Regions from separate parts of the Homo sapiens genome. Here all the other regions are linked to region 3. The links come from fine-mapping of genetic effects on gene expression. A gene starts in region 3. Each other region holds a variant in brackets. All regions are shown on one strand. Distances are between the middles of the regions. Region 1 overlaps COL1A1 (collagen type I alpha 1 chain). Region 2 overlaps PPP1R9B (protein phosphatase 1 regulatory subunit 9B). Region 3 holds the start of SGCA (sarcoglycan alpha).

What was found.
Region 1: its variant is fine-mapped to the expression of SGCA in aorta (GTEx, PIP 0.97).
Region 2: its variant is fine-mapped to the expression of SGCA in whole blood (TOPMed, PIP 0.95).

The regions. Positions count from the first base shown.
Region 1 is chr17:50,183,408-50,191,407 of GRCh38, reverse strand. It overlaps COL1A1 (collagen type I alpha 1 chain), which reads left to right. Exons shown (of 51, transcript NM_000088.4): 32 at 1-25; 33 at 484-591; 34 at 812-865; 35 at 1,028-1,081; 36 at 1,300-1,407; 37 at 1,496-1,549; 38 at 1,676-1,729; 39 at 1,870-2,031; 40 at 2,133-2,240; 41 at 2,398-2,505; 42 at 2,613-2,666; 43 at 2,771-2,878; 44 at 3,259-3,312; 45 at 3,425-3,532; 6 more. The coding sequence ends at 5,906. Among named protein-coding and RNA genes, the nearest start is that of COL1A1, 14 kb to the left of the region's middle. RefSeq lists enhancers at 1,593-2,146, 2,147-2,702, 6,025-7,015. The variant T/C (reference allele first, on the strand shown) is at 4,866.
Region 2 is chr17:50,140,032-50,148,031 of GRCh38, reverse strand. PPP1R9B (protein phosphatase 1 regulatory subunit 9B) reads left to right here. Exons shown (of 10, transcript NM_032595.5): 2 at 2,787-2,919; 3 at 4,314-4,434; 4 at 6,659-6,763; 5 at 7,804-7,939. Among named protein-coding and RNA genes, the nearest start is that of PPP1R9B, 6.6 kb to the left of the region's middle. RefSeq lists enhancers at 406-1,074, 1,075-1,745. The variant CTTCCCCG/G (reference allele first, on the strand shown) is at 3,061.
Region 3 is chr17:50,162,876-50,170,875 of GRCh38, reverse strand. SGCA (sarcoglycan alpha) reads right to left here and starts at 4,871. Exons shown (of 10, transcript NM_000023.4): 1 at 4,799-4,871; 2 at 3,389-3,508; 3 at 3,140-3,294; 4 at 2,857-2,929; 5 at 2,304-2,502; 6 at 1,622-1,784; 7 at 525-733; 8 at 210-236. The coding sequence starts at 4,835. LOC105371818 (a long non-coding RNA gene) reads left to right here and starts at 4,519. Exons shown (of 4, transcript XR_934833.3): 1 at 4,519-4,858; 2 at 5,397-5,665. RefSeq lists an enhancer at 6,777-7,277.

The sequences.
Region 1 (8,000 bases), 21 kb before region 3:
TCTTCCAGGGCCTAAGGGTGACAGAGTAAGTTCAACCTTCCCCCTCCCCTGAGCCCTACATGGCTCCCATCTCTGCCTGCTTTGAATCTCTCAGCATCTCTCCTTCTCTCTGGGATCTGTCCCTCTTCTCGCTAATCCTCCCTTCTTCCCCTTTCCCCTCTGGCCTTTTTGCTGATGAATCCTCTCCCTGTGGTCCAGGCCCATCTATCCCCATGGGTTACCATGGTGATGAGAGGTGGGGGCATCTCCTTGGTGGAGGCTCCCTTATTCATCCCGCTACACAAGTCAGGGGCCTCTTAACCTCAGTTCCACCTGAGTCTCCAGGCAGGCACCCTTTTTCCTGAAAGAATCTTTGAGTCCTTGGCCCAGGTGGAGGCAGGGCAGAGCTGCAGAGGGCCTCTCAGGAAACCCAGACACAAGCAGAACACTATAGGTCACCTCCTTGCCCCACACTGGAAATCTCAAGCTTATCCATGTCTTTAGGGTGATGCTGGTCCCAAAGGTGCTGATGGCTCTCCTGGCAAAGATGGCGTCCGTGGTCTGACTGGCCCCATTGGTCCTCCTGGCCCTGCTGGTGCCCCTGGTGACAAGGTGAGGTGGCCGCCTCCCCACCTTCTGCCCTAACACATAGCCTCCTCAGCAGGCCTGGGCACGGTTCCGTGGGGTTGCGTTGGGAGAGCAGGTCCTGCCAAACTGAGCTGTCAACCTGGGAACCTGGAGGGACCAGAAGGAGGGGAGGCTCTCCTGGGGTCATCTACTAGGAGTATTCAGGGGAGGCCCTGACCCTGAGCCTCTTGTCCCTTGCTCTCAGGGTGAAAGTGGTCCCAGCGGCCCTGCTGGTCCCACTGGAGCTCGTGGTGCCCCCGTAAGTACAGAAGACCTGTTAAGACCCCATACTTGGCCCTTCCCTCCCTTCACACAGCACCCCTGGCCCTGTCTGTGCCTTCACCCCTTGCCTCTCCCCTCACCGCATCCCCGCCTTCCCTCCTGTCAGCGCATCTCTCCAATCTGACTCCTTTTCTTCTAGGGAGACCGTGGTGAGCCTGGTCCCCCCGGCCCTGCTGGCTTTGCTGGCCCCCCTGTGAGTACCAAGACCCCCATCATTTTTCATCACCGACTGGGACCTGGGACCTCGAGGGACGGAATGAGGACAAAGGCGTCAGCCATCCTCAGGGGAGAAGGGTGGAGACGGGATTGTTTCCCACCCAAGCATCTTCCTGCCTCCATTACTGCTCCTCCCCCAGGTAGTGGAAACTCCTGCCTCCTTCCCTCCATTCACCGCCCTGCTTCCTCCCCCAGGGTGCTGACGGCCAACCTGGTGCTAAAGGCGAACCTGGTGATGCTGGTGCTAAAGGCGATGCTGGTCCCCCTGGCCCTGCCGGACCCGCTGGACCCCCTGGCCCCATTGTGAGTGGCTTGGCCCTCTGTGCCCACGAGGCTGGTGGGCTGGGACCCAGGACGGGTCCAGGCTTGATGCCTCTGTGCTCTCCTACAGGGTAATGTTGGTGCTCCTGGAGCCAAAGGTGCTCGCGGCAGCGCTGGTCCCCCTGTGAGTATCACCCGCCTCTCTGTTGAGCCTCTCCCCTCTCCCCAGGCAGCGGTGGCAGGTGAGGGCAGCTGGGTCGGATGAGTTGGCTGTTCTCCCTCTGACTGTTCCTATGTTCTCTCCTTCCAGGGTGCTACTGGTTTCCCTGGTGCTGCTGGCCGAGTCGGTCCTCCTGGCCCCTCTGTAAGTCTCTGCAGCAGAGTCCACTGCTCTAGGTTGGGGGTGCTGGGTGGGGGCTGCCAGAAGGATGGTGGGGCTGACTGAGGACCCAATGATGCACCAGAGCCCCCTGGAGTCTGACAGCCCCTCCTATCCTCATCCAGGGAAATGCTGGACCCCCTGGCCCTCCTGGTCCTGCTGGCAAAGAAGGCGGCAAAGGTCCCCGTGGTGAGACTGGCCCTGCTGGACGTCCTGGTGAAGTTGGTCCCCCTGGTCCCCCTGGCCCTGCTGGCGAGAAAGGATCCCCTGGTGCTGATGGTCCTGCTGTAAGTGCCAGCTCAGATCTCTGCAGCTCCGGAGGTGTGCAGAGCTGGGGAGGGGTCCCTGTGCTGCTCTCTGGCACCTCACCCCTGTTTGCCTCCCAAAGGGTGCTCCTGGTACTCCCGGGCCTCAAGGTATTGCTGGACAGCGTGGTGTGGTCGGCCTGCCTGGTCAGAGAGGAGAGAGAGGCTTCCCTGGTCTTCCTGGCCCCTCTGTAAGTGCCCCCCTCACCTTGGGGGGCCCTGAGAAAAACCATCACAGGACTTGGAGTGGGGCGGAGCCAAGGAGAACAGATTTGGTAGAGATGACTCCAGCGGACTCAAGGGTCCTCCCAGACCCTATCTCTGGCCTGACTCTTTCTTCTCCCTTAGGGTGAACCTGGCAAACAAGGTCCCTCTGGAGCAAGTGGTGAACGTGGTCCCCCTGGTCCCATGGGCCCCCCTGGATTGGCTGGACCCCCTGGTGAATCTGGACGTGAGGTGAGCAGTCCCCAGCCCCCATGCCAGTACCCTCAGCATGGCCATTGTGGCCTTGCCTAAGCCCTCTTCCCCGGCTGACTCTCACTTCTCTCTCTCTCTCTCTGCAGGGGGCTCCTGGTGCCGAAGGTTCCCCTGGACGAGACGGTTCTCCTGGCGCCAAGGTAAGATGGCAACACTCCATGACCACAGCCTTGTCTGCTGCTTCCCTGCCCCATCCTGGCCCTTCACCCGGGGCTGACCCATATTCCCCTGCTCTCCCCGCCAGGGTGACCGTGGTGAGACCGGCCCCGCTGGACCCCCTGGTGCTCCTGGTGCTCCTGGTGCCCCTGGCCCCGTTGGCCCTGCTGGCAAGAGTGGTGATCGTGGTGAGACTGTAAGTAGCTGGGCTCCAGTTCCCTGTACCTGGTCAGGCCAGGGACTCTTCAGGCCTCCTTAGAGGCCTGGGGATGGGTGTCGGACTTCACCCAGGCAGGGGGAGGAAAGGAGATCCTGCAAGATGTCAGGGCCTTAATCCAAAAAACTGAGTTAAAGCTCAGCCCCAAGTCCCCTCTCCCAGACAGGACCGCCTCTCCCATGAGTTGGCCCCAGCTCCCGTGAAGATTGCAGTGGGGAGGTTTCCCTGGGAGTTGGGAGAGATGGCCACAGTGGGAAGCAGCTGAGGAGAGAGAGATCCAGCAGAGGGGAGGCCTCATCCTGCAGCCCCAGCCTCAGCCTTCCCTGGCCAAGAGCTCATGCTTTCCTTGCTCTCCCCAGGGTCCTGCTGGTCCCGCCGGTCCTGTCGGCCCTGTTGGCGCCCGTGGCCCCGCCGTAAGTACCCTGCTGTGTCCCCCATGCCTTTAGAACTCTACAGATGCAGACAGTGCCCCACTCGATGCCAATGGAACTTCCGCCTGACAGTTTGTCCCTTTCTCTCTTCTAGGGACCCCAAGGCCCCCGTGGTGACAAGGGTGAGACAGGCGAACAGGGCGACAGAGGCATAAAGGGTCACCGTGGCTTCTCTGGCCTCCAGGGTCCCCCTGGCCCTCCTGTAAGTATGCTCAGCCCCTCCCCAGTCCCCATGCTGTGCTGTGGGATAGGAGGGGGAGCTTCGCCTCAGTTTCCCCCTCTGGATAGTCATTCTTTCCCCTCCCTAGTGGGGACTGGGGTCTGAAGATTTGTGGGCATGTCCAAGTAGCTTCTGAGAGGGTGAGGGGTACACAGAGAGGGATTATGGGAGAGGTCTCTGCCTATGGACACCCTCGGGCTAGATTTCCAGAATAATGAAGGGGCATGGGTTGCCCACACTGCCCTTGTCTCTCCAGCCAGGCCCTCAGGCTACATTTGACGCTCACTGGGCCTGAACTGCCTTTTTTATCTGTCCTTCAGGGCTCTCCTGGTGAACAAGGTCCCTCTGGAGCCTCTGGTCCTGCTGGTCCCCGAGTAAGTCATGCCTTCTCTCTCCTCTTCCTGAGCCCCAAGCCCAGGCTCACCTCGGGGACCCTTGCCAGGGACCCAGGCACCCTTTGCCTCTCTGGAGAAGGGTTCAGGGACAGGGAGTGGGCAAAGAGAGGAAGAATCCTGAACAAACAATCTGATCTAGCTTTGGCCTCTCTGCTCCCCAATCCGTCCTCCCCTGGCTCAGCGGCTGGGAGGAGCTATGGCATGTCCTATGGAAAGAGGCTGAGGCTGGCTCTATGAGCCGTGGGGCCAGAGCCAGCAGGGAGGGTGGTGGGCCTCTCCTCCAGAGCTGGGGTTGTTCGGGCTTCTGGCAGCCTTTCTCAAACCATTTCCCCCACTCCAGGGTCCCCCTGGCTCTGCTGGTGCTCCTGGCAAAGATGGACTCAACGGTCTCCCTGGCCCCATTGGGCCCCCTGGTCCTCGCGGTCGCACTGGTGATGCTGGTCCTGTTGTATGTAGCCCCTCATCCCCTCTGCTCATGGCCCTCCAGCCCCCAAAGCACTTGGATGCCGGTAATCCCCACTCTCTTCCCTCTCTGTGCAGGGTCCCCCCGGCCCTCCTGGACCTCCTGGTCCCCCTGGTCCTCCCAGCGCTGGTTTCGACTTCAGCTTCCTGCCCCAGCCACCTCAAGAGAAGGCTCACGATGGTGGCCGCTACTACCGGGCTGATGATGCCAATGTGGTTCGTGACCGTGACCTCGAGGTGGACACCACCCTCAAGAGCCTGAGCCAGCAGATCGAGAACATCCGGAGCCCAGAGGGCAGCCGCAAGAACCCCGCCCGCACCTGCCGTGACCTCAAGATGTGCCACTCTGACTGGAAGAGTGGTGAGGGCCTGCCCTAGCCTCTCCCTCCCTCCTACTCCTGCCATGCCAGGGTCCCCATGCCCATATGTGCCCCTACCATATGGTGCTGGCTGCTCCC[T/C]TTCCCTGACTCCATCTTGCCCTGCCCTACCACAGGAGAGTACTGGATTGACCCCAACCAAGGCTGCAACCTGGATGCCATCAAAGTCTTCTGCAACATGGAGACTGGTGAGACCTGCGTGTACCCCACTCAGCCCAGTGTGGCCCAGAAGAACTGGTACATCAGCAAGAACCCCAAGGACAAGAGGCATGTCTGGTTCGGCGAGAGCATGACCGATGGATTCCAGGTGCGTGAGCTGGACCTCAGAGCCAGTGTTAGGAGATGGGCTAGCCCAGTGCTCAGAAGGGACATGAAGTCCTGGAGTAGGTCTCTGCTAAGGGTGATGGACAGAGCTGGGCTGGGAGGCAGGGGTCTCAGGTCCCTGATAGTGGTTCAGACACAGGCTGCCGATGGGCAGGTGGTGCCTCCTCTCGATATAACGGTGCATTGGGCAGCTCTCTGAGGACCCTGGACAGGGAGGCCAGGCAGGACTAGAGGTTCCCGCATAGCGGCTCACTCTTCCCTCTCTCCCCTCCCCTGCAGTTCGAGTATGGCGGCCAGGGCTCCGACCCTGCCGATGTGGCCATCCAGCTGACCTTCCTGCGCCTGATGTCCACCGAGGCCTCCCAGAACATCACCTACCACTGCAAGAACAGCGTGGCCTACATGGACCAGCAGACTGGCAACCTCAAGAAGGCCCTGCTCCTCCAGGGCTCCAACGAGATCGAGATCCGCGCCGAGGGCAACAGCCGCTTCACCTACAGCGTCACTGTCGATGGCTGCACGGTGAGTGCCCAGAATCCCCAGGCAGGGCCCCACCTCTCCGGCCTTGGGCTTTTTGGCCAGGCCATAGTGCCCTCTCTCCATCACTCCCACGTGGTAATGCCCCCTCCCGTTGTCTCCGCCCCACCCCAGAGTCACACCGGAGCCTGGGGCAAGACAGTGATTGAATACAAAACCACCAAGACCTCCCGCCTGCCCATCATCGATGTGGCCCCCTTGGACGTTGGTGCCCCAGACCAGGAATTCGGCTTCGACGTTGGCCCTGTCTGCTTCCTGTAAACTCCCTCCATCCCAACCTGGCTCCCTCCCACCCAACCAACTTTCCCCCCAACCCGGAAACAGACAAGCAACCCAAACTGAACCCCCTCAAAAGCCAAAAAATGGGAGACAATTTCACATGGACTTTGGAAAATATTTTTTTCCTTTGCATTCATCTCTCAAACTTAGTTTTTATCTTTGACCAACCGAACATGACCAAAAACCAAAAGTGCATTCAACCTTACCAAAAAAAAAAAAAAAAAAAGAATAAATAAATAACTTTTTAAAAAAGGAAGCTTGGTCCACTTGCTTGAAGACCCATGCGGGGGTAAGTCCCTTTCTGCCCGTTGGGCTTATGAAACCCCAATGCTGCCCTTTCTGCTCCTTTCTCCACACCCCCCTTGGGGCCTCCCCTCCACTCCTTCCCAAATCTGTCTCCCCAGAAGACACAGGAAACAATGTATTGTCTGCCCAGCAATCAAAGGCAATGCTCAAACACCCAAGTGGCCCCCACCCTCAGCCCGCTCCTGCCCGCCCAGCACCCCCAGGCCCTGGGGGACCTGGGGTTCTCAGACTGCCAAAGAAGCCTTGCCATCTGGCGCTCCCATGGCTCTTGCAACATCTCCCCTTCGTTTTTGAGGGGGTCATGCCGGGGGAGCCACCAGCCCCTCACTGGGTTCGGAGGAGAGTCAGGAAGGGCCACGACAAAGCAGAAACATCGGATTTGGGGAACGCGTGTCAATCCCTTGTGCCGCAGGGCTGGGCGGGAGAGACTGTTCTGTTCCTTGTGTAACTGTGTTGCTGAAAGACTACCTCGTTCTTGTCTTGATGTGTCACCGGGGCAACTGCCTGGGGGCGGGGATGGGGGCAGGGTGGAAGCGGCTCCCCATTTTATACCAAAGGTGCTACATCTATGTGATGGGTGGGGTGGGGAGGGAATCACTGGTGCTATAGAAATTGAGATGCCCCCCCAGGCCAGCAAATGTTCCTTTTTGTTCAAAGTCTATTTTTATTCCTTGATATTTTTCTTTTTTTTTTTTTTTTTTTGTGGATGGGGACTTGTGAATTTTTCTAAAGGTGCTATTTAACATGGGAGGAGAGCGTGTGCGGCTCCAGCCCAGCCCGCTGCTCACTTTCCACCCTCTCTCCACCTGCCTCTGGCTTCTCAGGCCTCTGCTCTCCGACCTCTCTCCTCTGAAACCCTCCTCCACAGCTGCAGCCCATCCTCCCGGCTCCCTCCTAGTCTGTCCTGCGTCCTCTGTCCCCGGGTTTCAGAGACAACTTCCCAAAGCACAAAGCAGTTTTTCCCCCTAGGGGTGGGAGGAAGCAAAAGACTCTGTACCTATTTTGTATGTGTATAATAATTTGAGATGTTTTTAATTATTTTGATTGCTGGAATAAAGCATGTGGAAATGACCCAAACATAATCCGCAGTGGCCTCCTAATTTCCTTCTTTGGAGTTGGGGGAGGGGTAGACATGGGGAAGGGGCTTTGGGGTGATGGGCTTGCCTTCCATTCCTGCCCTTTCCCTCCCCACTATTCTCTTCTAGATCCCTCCATAACCCCACTCCCCTTTCTCTCACCCTTCTTATACCGCAAACCTTTCTACTTCCTCTTTCATTTTCTATTCTTGCAATTTCCTTGCACCTTTTCCAAATCCTCTTCTCCCCTGCAATACCATACAGGCAATCCACGTGCACAACACACACACACACTCTTCACATCTGGGGTTGTCCAAACCTCATACCCACTCCCCTTCAAGCCCATCCACTCTCCACCCCCTGGATGCCCTGCACTTGGTGGCGGTGGGATGCTCATGGATACTGGGAGGGTGAGGGGAGTGGAACCCGTGAGGAGGACCTGGGGGCCTCTCCTTGAACTGACATGAAGGGTCATCTGGCCTCTGCTCCCTTCTCACCCACGCTGACCTCCTGCCGAAGGAGCAACGCAACAGGAGAGGGGTCTGCTGAGCCTGGCGAGGGTCTGGGAGGGACCAGGAGGAAGGCGTGCTCCCTGCTCGCTGTCCTGGCCCTGGGGGAGTGAGGGAGACAGACACCTGGGAGAGCTGTGGGGAAGGCACTCGCACCGTGCTCTTGGGAAGGAAGGAGACCTGGC
Region 2 (8,000 bases), 23 kb after region 3:
AGGTCCGCCCCATGGAAGTGTCCAGGTCCCTGGACTCTCCTTGGCCTGGACCCTGCCCTGCCTTTACCCTTCCCTAGCCAAAGCACCATCTGTTTGCTTGTCGTTTCCATAACTACTCCTGGACTCTGAAGCTTCCCAACTTTCCTCTCACTCGCCCAGAATGTCAGCCTCTGCCCCTCTCCCACCTCCCACCCCAGCAAGAGGCCTGAAAGGTTAAAAGTGAGTGGCTCTCAGGCCAGCCTCTCCCCTGGGCTGGGACCTGCGGGGTCCTCTCCCAACCCCTTTCCCCTCCTGAAGGCAGTGGGGTTCTGAAGGGAATGGGGGACTGTAGTGTTTCTTGGGACTCTGAAGCAGAGTTTGGATCCCCCCACCCCACCCCCACTAATTTTGCGAGAAGTCCGATTCCCTCAGAGTTGGAGTTTGGTCTGGGCCTCTGACTGTCTATATTTGACGCCTTACCCTGATTTTTCAGTAAAAAATAGCACATGATTTGGAGCAGTGCTTCCCGGCTCCCTGGTGACTTTGGAGCTGGCCCGCCCTGTGTGAGAGCCAGCGTGTGTGGCGGGCCCAGTGTGGCTGGCTTTCAGCCTCACTGGGGATTTCCTCCTCCCCACCCTGGCACAGGGGCCCCACTTTTTCTTCTTCCTGCCCCTGCCTTGATGCCAAGTCCAGGGTCCCGGTCCCCATGGATGACCCAATTGTTGCCCTTCTGGAGGTGGAGGCCTCTGCTGAGGGCAGAGAACCCAATTCCAGCTTGGCCTCAGGGAGGTGGGACCTCCCCTAGGGCCCTCTGCTAGACCGGCATATCATGGTGGGCAGCCCGAGGAGGGGTAGGAGGTGGTCTGGGGCCTCTGAGCCCAGGCCTGGGATTCCTGCAGGCGGCAGGACCAGAAAGGGAACAGGATTTGATAGGCTGAGAGAAGAGGGCAGGGTGCAGCCCAGGACAGGCTGTGAGGTGTGTTTTGGAGGTCACAGCGGGCGTGTGTGTCCATGTGTGTCAGGGAGGGGTTTCGTTGACTCAGGAGACTGTAGAGACTCAATGATGAAGGGACCGTGTCTCCTAGAGCAGAGGGTGAGAGTCAGGGGACTCCAGTGCAAAGTGGGCCAAATCCCACTGCTGAGTCCAGGCTCACATCAGCCCTGTCCCAGAGCCTGGGGCATGTGTGCAGTGGAAACCAAGTCACCGGTGACCCACCCACCTGTCCCAGCTGGGTGCAGTCTCATTCTGCCTGGCCACAGTTTAACCCATGTGACCTTGGGCAGTGGGCCTGGTGCCCTGGACTATGTGCAAGGTAGGCAGCCTGTTTGTTCGAGGGGTGCAATGGACAGATGAGCTTTAAGGGCTGGAGCCAGAGTTTCTCTGATGCTGTGAAATTGAGGGCATTGAGCTAAGTGACCAGAGGGGTCCCTCCCACCTAAGCCTTCTAGTCCTATGAGCACCCCCTCCCTCTCCCACTGTGGCAGTGAGCCTCTCTGGTAGGGGGTGGGGACGACACGGAGCAAACCCAGACAAAGGCTGGGACACGAGAGTGCTGCTGCCCACCAGGGTGCCCACAAGGTCTGCTCCTGGAGGAGACGGGCCCTGACAAGGGCCCTTGGGGGAGATGGGGTCCTAGTCTGACTCCTCGGGGCTCAGACTCAGCCAACTGATAGAGCTGTTCCCCATCCCTCCCCGCCCCCGCCTGGCTCCAAGTGGTGCCAACCTGTCACTGCAGGCGATGAAGCTTGAGCATGTCATGGTACCCCAAATGGTGCTCATTAACCTCCCACTGGGGGCACCCCTGCCTGGGCCCAGAATTAGACATTCCCACAGAGCCCAGCCCCACCTTCTCTGTCCTTCTGAGGGAGTCAGAGCTGAGGAATTCCTCTTTTTGCTGAGAGACATTGGAGAGAGACAACAGAGGGGTACAGGAGATGCCAAGGCAGGGGTGGCCTCGGAGCCCCATGGCGCCTGGGTTCGCTGTGGGCAGTGTCAGAGGCTGTCCCCTCCTCAGTCTCCTGGGCCCCCTAGCACATGGACAGGGGGCGTAACTTAGAGAGCTGCAGTTGTGGAGGGAGAGCGGCCTGGGTGTGCAGGGAAGGCCAGGCCCAGCTTTTTCCCCTGCTTCTGCCACCCGAGGGGCTCCTGGGGATGGAGGGCCTGCCTCTTCTCCACGGGGATAGAGATGGTCTTTCCTGCTTCCCTCCCCTGCTCCAACATCCACTTGAGCGGCAAGTCAGAGCCAGTCCTGGGTACCTCTCCCCTTCCACCCCTCCTGCTCCCCTCCTCCTCTTCTGTCTCACACCCGCTCCCCCCTCTCTCCCCATCTGGCATTCTCCAGCATCTTCTCCATCCTCTCTCCCCTCCTCCTCTTCCCCTCTTCTGCTCAGCCTGTTCCTTCCTCTCTGTGTCTGTCTTTGTGTCCCCTCTCGCCTGTCTGGCTCTCTGGGTCCTATCTCTCACTTTCCCTCTATCTGGGTGTCTGGGTTCCTGAGTTGGACGTTTCTCCAGGATTCCCCTTCTGTGCCTATGGCAGACCATGCTCACGCTGGTTGGAGCTACAGAGAGAATAGCAGTGCGGGTCTGCCAAGGCTGGGTCCCTTTCTGTCTTGACCCTGGGCTCCAGAACTATAAGGGCCTTTGTTTTGCTCAGAGCTGGGGTCTCAGGGGACTGGGTGAGGCCTCATCTCAGGGCTATCATGGGGAGGCATGGGGTGGGTAACTCAGCCTGCCTCCTCGGCCTCCTCATGCCAGTTCTGCACTTGTCCTCCTGCCGGCCTCTCTGACCAGCTGCCTCCCTCCCCAGGTGTTCAGCACTTACTCCAACGAGGATTACGATCGTCGCAACGAGGATGTGGATCCCATGGCAGCCTCTGCTGAGTACGAGCTGGAGAAGCGTGTGGAGAGGTTGGAGCTGTTCCCTGTGGAGCTGGAGAAGGGTGAGAGGCCAGGAGGCCACGTCACTTGCGCACAGCTGGGGTTGACCCGGGTCTCATCTCTGGCACCAGCTCCTGCCCTGTGCCCTCAGGGGCTCCCACAGACTTGCTGGGCCTCTCCCTCTGACTCAGGCCCTTGGTGAC[CTTCCCCG/G]CTCCTCCCTTGTCAGCACCCAGAGCAAACAGGGCCTCCAACCCAGGCCAAGCCACACCCCCACCACCCCGGTCATGGAACCACATTTGCACATTCAGTTAACAGGTCTCTGTAGGGTACTGTGTGCTAGGTCCTGGGCTCTGTGTTGGGGACACAGTGGTGGGCTCCTGGGGAGATGGATGGGGGAGGCAGACATGGAAGGCACAGTCACATCTAATCTCACCCTTAGGCGCTGGAATAGGGGCTGGGGAAGGTAAGGAGGGGCCACTGTAAAAGCGTTTAACAGGTGACCTAACCAGACTGTGCTTGGGGGCATTCTCCAGGGAAGTGAAGCTTGAGTTGCACTCTGGTGAGGAGGAATTAGGGGAGTAGTCAGGAAAGGGGCTTGGCTGCATTTGCATAGGGAGGGCAAGAAGAGCATGCAAATGAGGCCTTGCAGACCACGTGGTCTTGTTGCTAAGATGGATTGGGAGCCATTTCGAAGCACAGGAAAGGTCTAGAAAGACCACACCAGGCTGTGATGTAGGGAGGGGGTCACAAGTGGATGGAGAAAGGCCACTGTGGCGTGGACAGGAAGATGGCAGAGCGGGTGTGGGTGGACTGGAAAGATCTCCAGGGGTAGAATCCATAGCATCTGGGGGTCATTTGGCTCAGGTGGAGGCTGTGAGTGGGAGGGAGGAATCCAGGTGCCTCCCAGGTCTGGCAGGTGGCAGGTGGTGGTACCATCCCCCATGAGGGAGTGTTTGTGGGGGAAGGTCATTAGTTGGGACATCAGAGGGCCATGAGTCAGGCAGGGGCAGGTGTGGATAGGGGAATGGACCTCAGGGGAGAGAAAATCTGGAGGTCTTTGGTCCTTGAAGCTATGAGTACAGATGAGACTGGCTGAGAGGGAGAAGACCAAAGGCTTAGGGCTGAGTCCCATCCTGGCTACCCCCATCCTGGCTACCCCCATCCTGGCCACACGCCCTGGTCTGCATATGCAACAGTCTTACCTGCCTGTGCCACCCTTGGCACGCTCTTCTGCCCATTGGTTCTTTGGAAGGGACAAAGGGCAGGGAGCGGCTCAGGAGCCATCCTAGTAGACTTGGCAAAGACGGTGGACAGAACTATATCCCTTCTTCAGTTGTGGGACATCCCCTAATGGGGACTGCTTCCTGATGGGGGGGCTGTGCCCTGGAATTCGGGGTGGAGAGTCTCTCGTCTGTCCCCTACAAGCCCTGCCATCTCACCACTCTCTGTTCCACAGACTCCGAGGGCCTGGGCATCAGCATCATCGGCATGGGCGCCGGGGCAGACATGGGCCTGGAGAAGCTGGGTATCTTCGTCAAGACCGTGACGGAGGGTGGTGCGGCCCATCGGGATGGCAGGTACCAATCCTCCCCAGTCTCGCCTGACCCTTTTTCCCTCTCCGACCGGCCATCCTTGGTGGGGTGGGCCACTGAGCAGGGGGTGGGGCGGGCCTTCCCTGGGAGATTTCCGTGCTGTGTGTGCAGCTGAGATGTTCGGGGAGCACTGCCATGCCAGGTGCTGTTCCAGGCCCCAGAAATACAACAGTGAGCACTGTCAGCCCCTATGCCCTGAAGGAGCGTGTGTTCTCCAGGAGGGGCTGGTGACCATGGGGGCTATAGGCGTGTGTTGTGCATCCCGGTCTGGAGTACAGTTTGGGCCCTGGTAGGGAGAAGACAGGCATGGAGTATATTTGAGCTTTTTTTTCGCTGGACATTGAGTCTCTGACAGTGTTGGGCCGGTGCTGGGCCCTGGGAAGTCAATGGTGAGGGCCTGGCGCACTTGAGAAGTGTGCAGTGTGGTGTGAGGTAGACATTGAATAAATGGACACACAAAAGGTAGTGAAATGGAGGGAAATGCAGACTGCTGTGAAGGCATACAACAGGAGGGTTTAATCTCTCTGGGCATTAGGGAAGGCTTCCTGGAGGAAGCAGTGCTGGAGCTGAGAGCTAAGGCTGGAGCAGGAGTTAGCTGTGCTGAGGGAGTGAGTGCAGAGGTTCCAGGCAGTGGCGCCATGAGCAGGCAGGTGTGGCTGGGGCATAGAGAGCAGGGGCCAGGAGGCTGTGACTAGACCCATTGATGGCAGTGGCTCTGGAGACAGGCTGTCTTTGCGCATGTGAGTGTGTGTGCCTGTATTGAGCATCTGTGGTTGCAAGGGGTGAGTTCTGTGGGACAGAAGGTTCAGGGAGGGCATCCTGGAGCTGTGTGCCAGCCAGGGACCCCTGTGTTAGCTGTGTATTCCAGGGGTGTGGGGAGTGGCAGTAGGAAGGGCTGTAGGGCATCCCCCAGGGTGGCTGTAAGTTAGAGGTGACATTGGGGATCTCTTGTGGTGGTACCTCCAAACCCAGACCCCCTCCATGTGACAGAGGTGAGCAGGTGTCCTTTGGGATCTGGGTGACTTTGGGATCTTGTTTCTAGAGATGGGGCTGCCCTGTCAAGGGGCTTCTACCTGTTGTGGCCCAGGTGGCATGGAGAGGGGCCGGGAACAGGATACCCTTTCATTTACCCCTTCCCCTCCCAATGTGAACTTCCAGAGCCTTTCCCATTGTTGCCTGTGGGTTGTCTAAGGAGTGAGTGTGCATGGTGGCCGTGGCCACTCACTCATGCCCACCTGGGAGTGGCATGTGTTGGGGTGAGCTGTTGACAATAGGCCATTTCCTCCATTTCCGTGTGGGAGTCCTGAGAGAAGGCCTGGAGCTCCCAGGGAGGTGGAGTGGAGGAGGGAGGTGTCTGAGAGGCCCCCCACCCTCCATCTCCCTCAGCAGGCCAGACTGAACCTCCCCTTGTATGGAGAACACGGGCTTCAGGGGACACAACTGGAGTGTGTCGGCAGGTGCACCTGTATCAGGTGTGTGTGGGACAGTGTGTGAACTCGAGAGAGTGCCATTCGGTCTTGGGGACTTGGGAGGACATCTGTGCACTCAGTTCTGTGCAGAAATGTACACGTAAGAGGGTGGCATGTCACTTGTGTGCTGTGGGGCTCCTGGCCAGTGTGCATGGCAGAGATGAACTCTGAGAATGTCACACCGCTCAGTCAAGTATGATGAAGGAGGGGACAAGAGTGTGATTGTCACAGGAAGTGTGCCTGCCGCGTCTCCTGGTCCTGGACGCCTGTGTCTGCTTTGCTTGCCTGGCTCTCACTGCCCACACAGGTGGGCCTGGCTGACACTTAATCCTCTGGCCTTGTGAATGTTACGCAGGTAGACAAAGTACCAGGTCCCTGTGAGGACAAAGTATCTGTGAGGTTTTTTGTTGTTGTTTTCTTTTCTTGTTTTTTTTTGTTTTTTTTTTTTTTTGAGGCAGGGTCTTACTCTGTTGCCCAGGCTGGAGTGCAGTGGCGCAAACACAGCTCACTGCAGCCTTGACCTCCCTGGCTCAAGTGATCCTCCCACTTCATCCTCCCAAGTAACTGGGACTACAGGCACGTGCCACCATGCCCAGCTAATTTTTCTTTTTATTGTTTGTAGAGATGAGTTCTCACTATGTACTCAGGCTGGGGAGCCTGGAGTTTCTGATGGGAGGAGGCTACCTCTACCCTCGCTCCTCGGTTCCCCTGTGACCCCTTAACCAATGTCACTCCGCTAGGATCCAGGTGAATGATCTCCTGGTGGAGGTGGATGGAACAAGTCTGGTGGGAGTGACCCAGAGCTTCGCGGCGTCTGTGCTCCGGAACACCAAGGGCCGAGTGCGGTGAGAGCCCAGAGGGGTGGGGCGTGGGAGCGGGCAGGAGGTCCTCGTCCAGGCACTCCGTTCACCTGCCTTAACAGCCAGTTAAGGTTCTGGTGGCCCAGCTCACAGAGGTTCTGCTGACTCCTTGGCTGCAGGAGTTGCTGTGCCTGGAGTCCCTCGCCTCACACCTGCCTTCTCATCCCAGCTCCCTGGCAACAGCTGGCCACCAGTACTCAGCCTTCCTGGCCCACTGTCCACCAGCCCTCCAAACTGTCCTCTAGGGCTTCTTCTCCTTCCCCCTACCTGTCCCTGACTCACTGACTGAAGAACCAGGACGTCCAGGGTGAATGCTAACCATATTGGGGTCCCCTCATTGGGACCTCATGCCCCCCACCCCGACCAGCCCTATGTCATCCTGGGAAGACTCCGCCCCAGGCCTGTAACCAAGGGGACTGGATCAGAAGCTCCCTGTGTCCACTCTACCTTTGGCTTAACATTCAGGGATCACTCCCTGCCCCCCTGCAAGAGGGGTACTACCCCCAGGAAAGGGTGGTGGAGAGAAACAGGATGTGGGTGGCCACCGGGAGGAGGGGCTGGTGCCTGGAAGTTCCACTATTTCCTCTCCATCCTAATCTCCAGTTGCCATCATCCCGCCCCTTCCTGAAGCTCAGGGGCTTGGAGCATACCCAAGAAACACCTCCGCAGCCCATCCCTGCTGGGAGGGTCATCTTCACCTTTCCCTGCCTCATTTTCTCCCCTGTGGCAGGGGAAGAGCCTCCTCAGTGCATGTCCCCTGCAGCACAGCCTAGAGGTGGGCTGACATTCTCCCTCCCGCAATACTGGCCAGAGGGGTGAATGGGCCTTCCTGCCTCCCTTGGGAAGGAAACCTGATAAGGGCCCTCATTCCCCCATTCATTATTAACACTGCAGCCTTCGGACTCAGCCCTCTCATCTCTCCTCCCCTGGGAGGGCCTGAGTTTGGAGAGGGGAGCATCAGCAGGGAGGATGATGCATTACCTGGCTGAGGACAGAGGCAGCGGATGATGCCGGTGCCCCTGCAGGTTTATGATTGGCCGGGAGCGGCCGGGAGAGCAGAGCGAAGTGGCCCAGCTAATTCAGCAGACTTTGGAACAGGAGCGATGGCAGCGGGAGATGATGGAGCAGAGATACGCCCAGTATGGGGAGGATGACGAGGAGGTAGGGAGTCCCTGCCTGGCTGGCCGCGTGGTCGCCCCCTGGTGGCTAGATGAAGCATTAC
Region 3 (8,000 bases):
GTTGCCCAGGCTGGCCTCAAACTTCCAGGCTCAACCAATCCTCCCACCTCAGCCTCCCAAAGTGCTGGGATTACAGAGGTCAAGGGAAGGGGTGAGCATCACCCTGGAGTTATTTATTTTGTCTCTGCTGTTCATGGCATAGTTTGGTGGCGGGGTCCAACAACTGTCTAGGTGGGCTCCCACCCCACCCCCAGCTTTCCTTTACTCACTCGGAGGTAGCCAGGTCTCTCTTCAGCCTGTGGAAAAGTGAAGGAGAGGGTTAGCCCAGCTCTGGGTTTCGCCCCAAGGTGCCCCAGGGCTCCAATGTGAGTGGAGGTCTGTGTGCAATTATCCACAATGCCCTCCTGGTGCCAGGCCAGGCAGGTCTCAAGCCCCAAGTTGCCTAGAAAGGGGCCCCACACTCCTTTTGTGCCTGAGAACCCCATTCCCATGGTGTCTGGGTCCCATACAGCACAAGTGCCACTGTGAGTCCCATGGGTGTGAGCTCCAGCAGGTGCTCCCCCGCCCTTCATGCCCACATTCACCTTCCCTCCCGCCGGCAGCACATGACATAGGCCAGCAGCAAGGTGAGAAGCAGGGCCACCAGCAGGGGCACCAGGAGGGTGACCAGAGCATCCACCAAGAAGTCACGGTCTGGGGCCTCAGTGGGTGGGCAGAAGAACGGGTCATGCTCCAGGATCCCATCACCTGGGGTGGGCACCTCATCTGCAGGCTCCGGCACTGACTTATCCACCTGCACAGAGAGCTCAGGGCTGACGCAGGAAGTGGCTGGCTGGACACAGAGGTCCCCAGGAACATGGCAGGGGCCAGGACTAGGAGGCAGGAGACACAAAGTCCAGCAGAGGCGGGACAGTGCACTGGTTAGCGCACAGCTCTAGGGTCTGACCTCCTGGTTTGAATCCAGACTCAGACAAGTGCTTAGCTAGGATGATTATGTGCCTCTGTTTCATCACCTGTAATGTCAGAAGGATAATAGTAGCACCTGTCTCCTGGAGTGGTGGTGAGCATAAAATATGTTGATGGGACAGTGCCAAGCACATAGCAAGTGCTCAAGAATGTTGTCAATTACCAGTCGCTGGCTGTGGACCCTGAATGAGTCCCTGCTCTGTTGGTCAATTCACAGGAACAGTGTACACCAGCCGTGGGATCCTGTGAACCTCAGCTCAGTATCCAAAGAGCTGTTGTGAGCATCTTTGGTTTATAGTGTGAAGAGCTATCAGATCCTTGTTGTAAGTGGGTTTGCTAGGTGGCACCTTACAGAAAAGCAGACAGAGCTGTCACGCAGAGGCCCTTGGTAGGGAAAGGGTTTGGGAACTGGACTGTGATATAGCTGTTGACCTGGGCAGATCTGGGGCGCGGGAGTTGGAGACCCCACATGCGGATTGCGGACTCTGTTGCCCTCTTGTGGGGGAAAGGTAGAACTTCAGGGGTGTGTGTGTGTGTGTGTGTGTGTGTGTGTGTATCCTCAGACTAAGCCTGTGGGCAATACTGAGAGCATCAGGGAAAGAAATGGTGACTGGAGCAATCAGAGAGACGGAGATAGGAAGCAGCATGGGAGGGAAGGGGGACTGGGATGGGGGCCATGCCCCACCCCACCCCCGGACCCAGGGTCCCTCCTCACCAGGGTCACATTGCACCAGTCAACGCGGAAGTGGGGTGCCAAGGTGTCGTAGCAAGACAGAAGTGGAGGCTGGCCCTGGGCACAGCGGGCGTGGCTATCGGGGGATGCCACCATCTTCAGGCAAGTAGAAAAAGGTGAGGCAGAACCCACCTTAATGTATACCCTGGGACCAGATAGAAGTCACTGTCAGCAGAGTGGGGGCAGGGGGCACGAGGCACCACTCTGCCAGGGGTTGTTGAAACTTTCCTAATTGTAGGCTATGACCTGGGGATGGGATGAGGGAGACGCCTAAGAGGGAGGATTAAGGGAGGAACATGGCACAGCTGGGGTCTGGCAGGAGTCACAGTCCTCCCAGAGATCTGAGATCATGGTGAGAGTACACAGGGCACCCCATTCTTCTAGGGGGTCTTACCCTCCCTACTAAGGAATGTCTTTTAATGGATGTATCTGGTACGTCCTCATGAGGCACCAGGAAGTACAGAGTTCAGGGTAACTAGGGTCTAGGCTCTGGAAGGACAAGGAGATGCGGGTATAGCCAGAGGAGAGTGGTGAGGGGTGTGAAGCTGGGAGGTGGAGATGTGCGTGGTAAAGCCCCACCTGGAAATTAGGGAGACCCTTGTTCTATGCCCGCCACAAGCTGCATCCTCCTCTTTCAGGAAGTCCTCTAGGGTTGCACACCTACCCTTCTTTTCGGCCCTCAATGGGAAGGGGGACACGGCCCCCACGGTCCAAGGCAGAGGTGACGTTGAGCAGCTGAAGCTCTCCGGGCTCCCAGAGTCCCCCCAAGGCTGAGAGGAAGCGGCTGGCAGGTGTTGAGGGCAGCACCTCCTCCGCATCGTGGCTGCGCACCAGGAACTCGGCTTGGTATGGCAGCAGGGGGCCTGGGAAGGCCAGGTGGACACCTCAGGCTGCACCCAGCCCCAGCTCTGCCCCGCAAAGCCTCCTTGAAGCTCCTCCCCACATCCCTGCACACCCCTTCAGGCCCCTCAATGCCCCATCCATCACAGACCCCAACAAGCCAAGTCCCAATAGTCTCTGCAACGCAGCGAGTAACAGAACTCCAGAGCCTGGAATCCCAGCCCAGCACCCATTCCCTGAGAGCCTTGTCCCCACTTTCCAGGATGCCCTGCTCCACTCCTCTCCAAGCCTCTCCTGTCCACAGCCCCCTCCCCCTCCGGGAGAGATTCCCCAAGACTGGCATTGGTGGGGAAGGGATGGGGCACAGCTAGAGGTACCTTCTGGGTCCCCAATCTCCAGCACCAGCCTCTGCCGAGTGGTATCAAAGCTGTCCCGATTGTAGGCTGTGACCTGGGGGATGGGAAAGACATCTGAGAAGTGGGTTAGGGGAGAAACGTGGCACAGCGGGGGCCTGGCAGGAGAGGACTCAGATACCAAATTAGAGGTATGTAAATTATATGTAAATGACTGTGAATGAGCACCCAATCCCAATTCATAGGGCTGCTCCTAGGAGGCCACTCTGGCCCACCCCTGTGATTTTCTCAGGGTCCCTGACGGCACCTCAATGACCTGGAGCCCACGATCTTCTGGGGTGGCAGAGCCGTAGAGGAAGCCAGGGTGGTGGGGGCTGCGCTGGGTGTAGCGGAGCCACCGGGGCAGGTCTGGGTGTCCCTGGAGGTGGGCGTGGTAGGTGATGTGGACAGCGGGTGGGACAGCTGGTGGAAGCGAGGAGAGGGGATTCGAGTCACAGCAGGAGCCCTGCGGGGTACACCCCAGCCCGCCCGCCTGGGTGCCTGTCAGGCCGCTCACCGACATGCTCAGGAAGGCTCAGAAACGTCTCATGGTCCAAGGTGTGCACAAAGACACGGCCCACAAGTGGGTGTAGCGTGGTCTGCTGGGCCTCGGTGTCCCCCAGCCCTGCCAGGAGAACTGTGGGGACCCCACAAGTCCCAAACACACAGGCCAGCCTCAGTCCTGGGCAGGGGATAAGCTCCCTTCCCCACCAAGTCCTTGGAGCCCCTAAGGGACCGAGAGAAGCGCTTCCTTTGCTGCCTCCCAGGAAGGGATTGGGGTGGGGATGGGGGAGCAAGCCCTGCTGGGCTAGACATTTTAATCGTCTGGGTTTCGGGATTCGAGGGAGAACCTCTCCCACAACCTTTCCATTCCTTGTTTTAGGCCCCTATTAATGGTGCAGTGGGCAGGGACTGATGTTTGACTGGGAAGTGTGTGTGTGAGGGTGTGTGTGTGTGTGAGGGGATGTGGGGGGGTGTGTGTGTGAAGGTATGTGTGAGGGTCTGTGAGGATGTGTGTGAGGGTGTGTGTGCAAGTGAGTGTGTGTGAGAGGGTGTGTGTGAGGGTGTGTGTGTGTGAAGGTGTGTGTGGGGGGTGTGTGTTTGCGGGGGGTGTGTGGGGGTATGTGGGGGTATGTGGGGGTGTGTGTGGGGGGTGTGTGTGACGGTGTGTGGGGTGTGTGTGTGACGGTGTGTGTGAGGGTGTGTGTGTGAGGGTGTGTGAGGGTGTGTGAGGGTGTGTGTGTGAGGGTGTGTGAGGGTGTGTGAGGGTGTGTGTGAGGGTGTGTGTGTGAGGGTGCCGTGAGGGTGTGTGTGAGGGTGTGTGTGGGTGTGTGTGTGTGTGAGGGTGTGTATGTGTGAAAGGCACTGGGAAAAGAATCCCATGCTAAATGCCCAAGAGCCCAGAGGAGAGGAAGACGGGGCCAGGAGCCTACAGAGGAGGAAGGGTAGCCATTCTGGGCCTGGAGACCCCCACCTTCCTCCCCTAAAATACAGGGAAGAAGAAGGCCTGCCCTAGAGGCCAGTAGGAGCTGAGCAAAAGGAATCCTAAGTCCAAGAGAGGAGCAGAGGACCTGGCCGCCAGCTCCACCCTCCCTCCCAGGGCCAAATTTAGCCTGGGCTTAGAAGCTGCGGCCCAGCCAGCTCATTAAAGGGCCCACGACCCTTTGGGCCTGTGCTGTCAGACCCACCCGGGCCCTAGGACACCTCCAGCCCTCAGAGCTCCCAGCCCCTTCATCCCAGAGCCCAGCTCCCAGCCCCATTCCCTGGATCCCCAGCTGGCCATGGCATTAACACCCCAAAGCCCTTCTGGCGCCTGCCTCACCCAACCCAGATCCCTCTTCTGTGGGCCCTCCACACCTCCGTCTTACCACCCCTAAATCCTGCCCCCTCATCCTGGGCCTCCCCGCTGAACAAGGCCCCAACTTGCCCACGAGGAGAGGAGTCCAGAAGAGTGTCTCAGCCATGGCTGCCCGGCCTGGCCCGCCCGGTGAGTGACAGAGACAGGGGGCAGGGAGGAGAGGAGGGAAGGAGGGAGGTGGCTCGGGGCAGCTGGGTCCCAGCGTCAGCCTCCCCTCCCCGCCTGGAGCATGCACCAAATCTGGGATAGACACCCTCCTCGCACTCATTGTCCCTCCAACCGTCCCCTCCAGTGGCCACAGTGTTTTTTAAACCACCAACCAGGCCACCTCCATCCTCCCTTAAAACTCTAATGGTTCTCATGGCCCCTGAGTTCCCAGCTCATCCCCAGTTGGTGGCTTTCTGGCCTGTCCTGAACCTGGTCAGCTGGTCTAGAATCCCATCCTCTGCCCCTACCCTTCCAACCCCAGGCCCCTGCTCAGCCTCACTCCGCTCCTGCCTAGCTTGGCAGACTCTCTCAAGTCTCCAAGCCGTCGTCCAGGCTATTGCCTCTGCCTGCAGTTCCCTTCCCACCTTCATTCAAGCAGCAACCTTCCAGTCACCTTTCCAGACTCTGCACAGATGTCCTCTCCTCTCTGAAGCCTTTCTGACCTCCCTTCTTCTGCTAGGCCAAGCTGGGTGTCCCCTTAGCCCCTGCGTGCTTTCCTGGGCACAACACAATCACACAGACTGCTCCAAGCTCCTCGAAGACTAGGATCTTGTCACGTTTGTATCCTTGGGCCTGGCACAGGGCCTGGTAACTAGTAGGTGTAGCTGGCTGGCGGCAGCTTCCTTAACAGCAAACGTAGGTGCCATCCACCCAGCCTTTATCCCCAGTCCAAGCACTTCAGCGTGGAGGTCTAGCAAGCCCTGGACAGGACCAGCCAGCTAGAGACAGGTGAGCGGAGGAGGCACCCTCTCTGGCCCATGGAGTCAGGGTTCATTCGGCGCATAGACTTGGAGGCCTGGAGGTGGGCCACCTTGGCCACTTGCTGGGGATGAGGCCTTGAGTGCACCATTTGCCCTCTAGCCCATTTCCACAACTATAAACTGGCAAGAATAGTGCTTGCCTCTTGGCATCATTGTGAGGACTCCACAAAGTAATGAATGCAGCGCATATTTATGAAACACCTGCTATGTATCAGACATTGAAATTGCAAAGATAAGCAAACCTCTGCCCACATGGAGGTCACCTGCCAGTGGGTAATACCAGCTAGCGCTGCCAGCTACTGTGCTGAGAATCTTACATATATCTACCTATATTACCTCATTCCATCTCCTCAGCAGTTCCATGAGGCAGGTATTATTACTGTGCCCATTTAACAGATGATAAAACTGAGGCACAGGGGTGTATACCTTCCCCAAGGCCACATTGCTGATGAGTAGAATGCATGTGGACGGCTTAGCCCAGTGCCTGGCTCAGTCGATGACTGTGCTGCTGATGTACTTGCCCGGCCCTGCTTCCCCTTCCTTCTTGCCTCTGCCAAAGGATCTCAGTCCAGGGGCGATGGGGCGCGGTGTCCTCTCCCCAGGTCTCTCACTTAGGGCAGGCACAGGGGCACTCTCCCCAGGTGCCCTGAGAAGGGGGCGGGGACCTATGGCTGCCAGGGTTCCCAAATCCTTGGTGCCTGTGTGACCTCTCCTCCAGGGCCTCAAAAGGACAACAAAATACCCCAGGCAAGGATCACTTGGGTCCAGCCTAAGGGCACAGGTGTTGGCCTGCAGATGGGGTGACTGGTAGGCAGGTTACGCAGTCCTTGTCCCTTCCTCTCTCTCTCTCCACCTGACTGACCCGCTCATCCCTGGAGAGCCACCAAATTCCAGAGTCAGCGTCCCCTCAGGCAAGGCAGTATTTGTCCCAGCATCACCTGGCCATCTCTCTGTCTTCTCAGAGACAGAGGGAGGGAGGAAGAAAGGTTCTGGAGGCAGAGGAAGAGCCCAAGGGTTCTGGGGGAGCAGGCAGAAGTGCCAACCCCCTGGGCACCTGCCCAGCCTCACCCCTGAGCTTCTCCATGTGACTCCCCGCCCCCTGCCGTCCCCCTGGCTATTTTTGGAGCCACCCACTCAGCTGTCTTAAGGTAGCAGTGCCTGGCCCCAGTGTCACCAGGCCCACAGAGGCCAGCCTTCCTTAATGAAAAGCTGCAGCTACTTCCCCATCAGATCCTCCCTGCCCAATTCAAGGGAGCCAGGGACTGTCCCACAAGCCAGAAAGTCCCCAGAAACCCTTCTCAGGCCCCTCAGCCATCAGAGGACCTTCCCACTCAGAGCTGTCTGGATTGCAACCTGCTGCTTGTAACACACAGCACCTTCTGTCTATTGGGCCTAGGGGTGGGAAGGGAGGTCACAGGGTCTTTAAACTTCTTAGTTTGAAAAATTTGCAGCATACTATAATAAGCCCCCGTGTATCTGTCACCTGGCTTCAACAATTATCAACTCATGGCCAGTCTAGTTTCATCTGTACCCCTCCTGATTAATTTCATCCATCAATATTTCAGTGTGTATCTTTAAATGATAATGACTCTTTTTAACATAATCACATAACACGTTCAGCTATTAACATCATCAATAAAATTCCTTAATATCAAACTTCTAGTGTTCAAATTACCAATTTCTCATAAACATACATATTTTTACAGTGTATTTGTTTGACTCAAGATACAAAGAAGATACACACATTGCAACTGATTGATGATTTATAGGGCTTTTTTTTTTTTTTTTTTTGAGACAGAGTCTCGCTCTGTCACCCGGGTTGGAGTGCAGTGCCATGATCTCGGCTCACTGCCACCTCCACCTCCCAGATTCAAGCAATTCTCCTGCCTCAGCCTACAGGCACGTGCCACCATGCCCAGGGGTTTCACCATGTTGGCCAGGCTGGTCTCAAACTCCTGACCTCAAGTGATCCACCCACCTTGGCCTCACAAAGTGCTGAGATTACGGGCGTGAGCCACTGTGCCTGGCCAAGGCTCTTTTAAATTTCTTCAAATCTATAGGTTCCCATACATCCTTTCTCTCTCTTTTTTCCTTCCTCCCTTCCTTCCTTCCTTCCTTCATACTTTCCTTCCTTTCCTCCCTCCTTCCTTCCTTCCCTCCCTCCCTCCTTCTTCTTCCTTCTCTCCCTCCCTCCCTCCTTCTTCTTCCTTCTCTCCCTCCCTCCCTCCTTTCTTCCTTCCTTCCCTCCCTCCCTCCCTCCTTTCTTCCTTCCTTCCCTCCCTCCCTCTCCTTCCTTCCTTCCT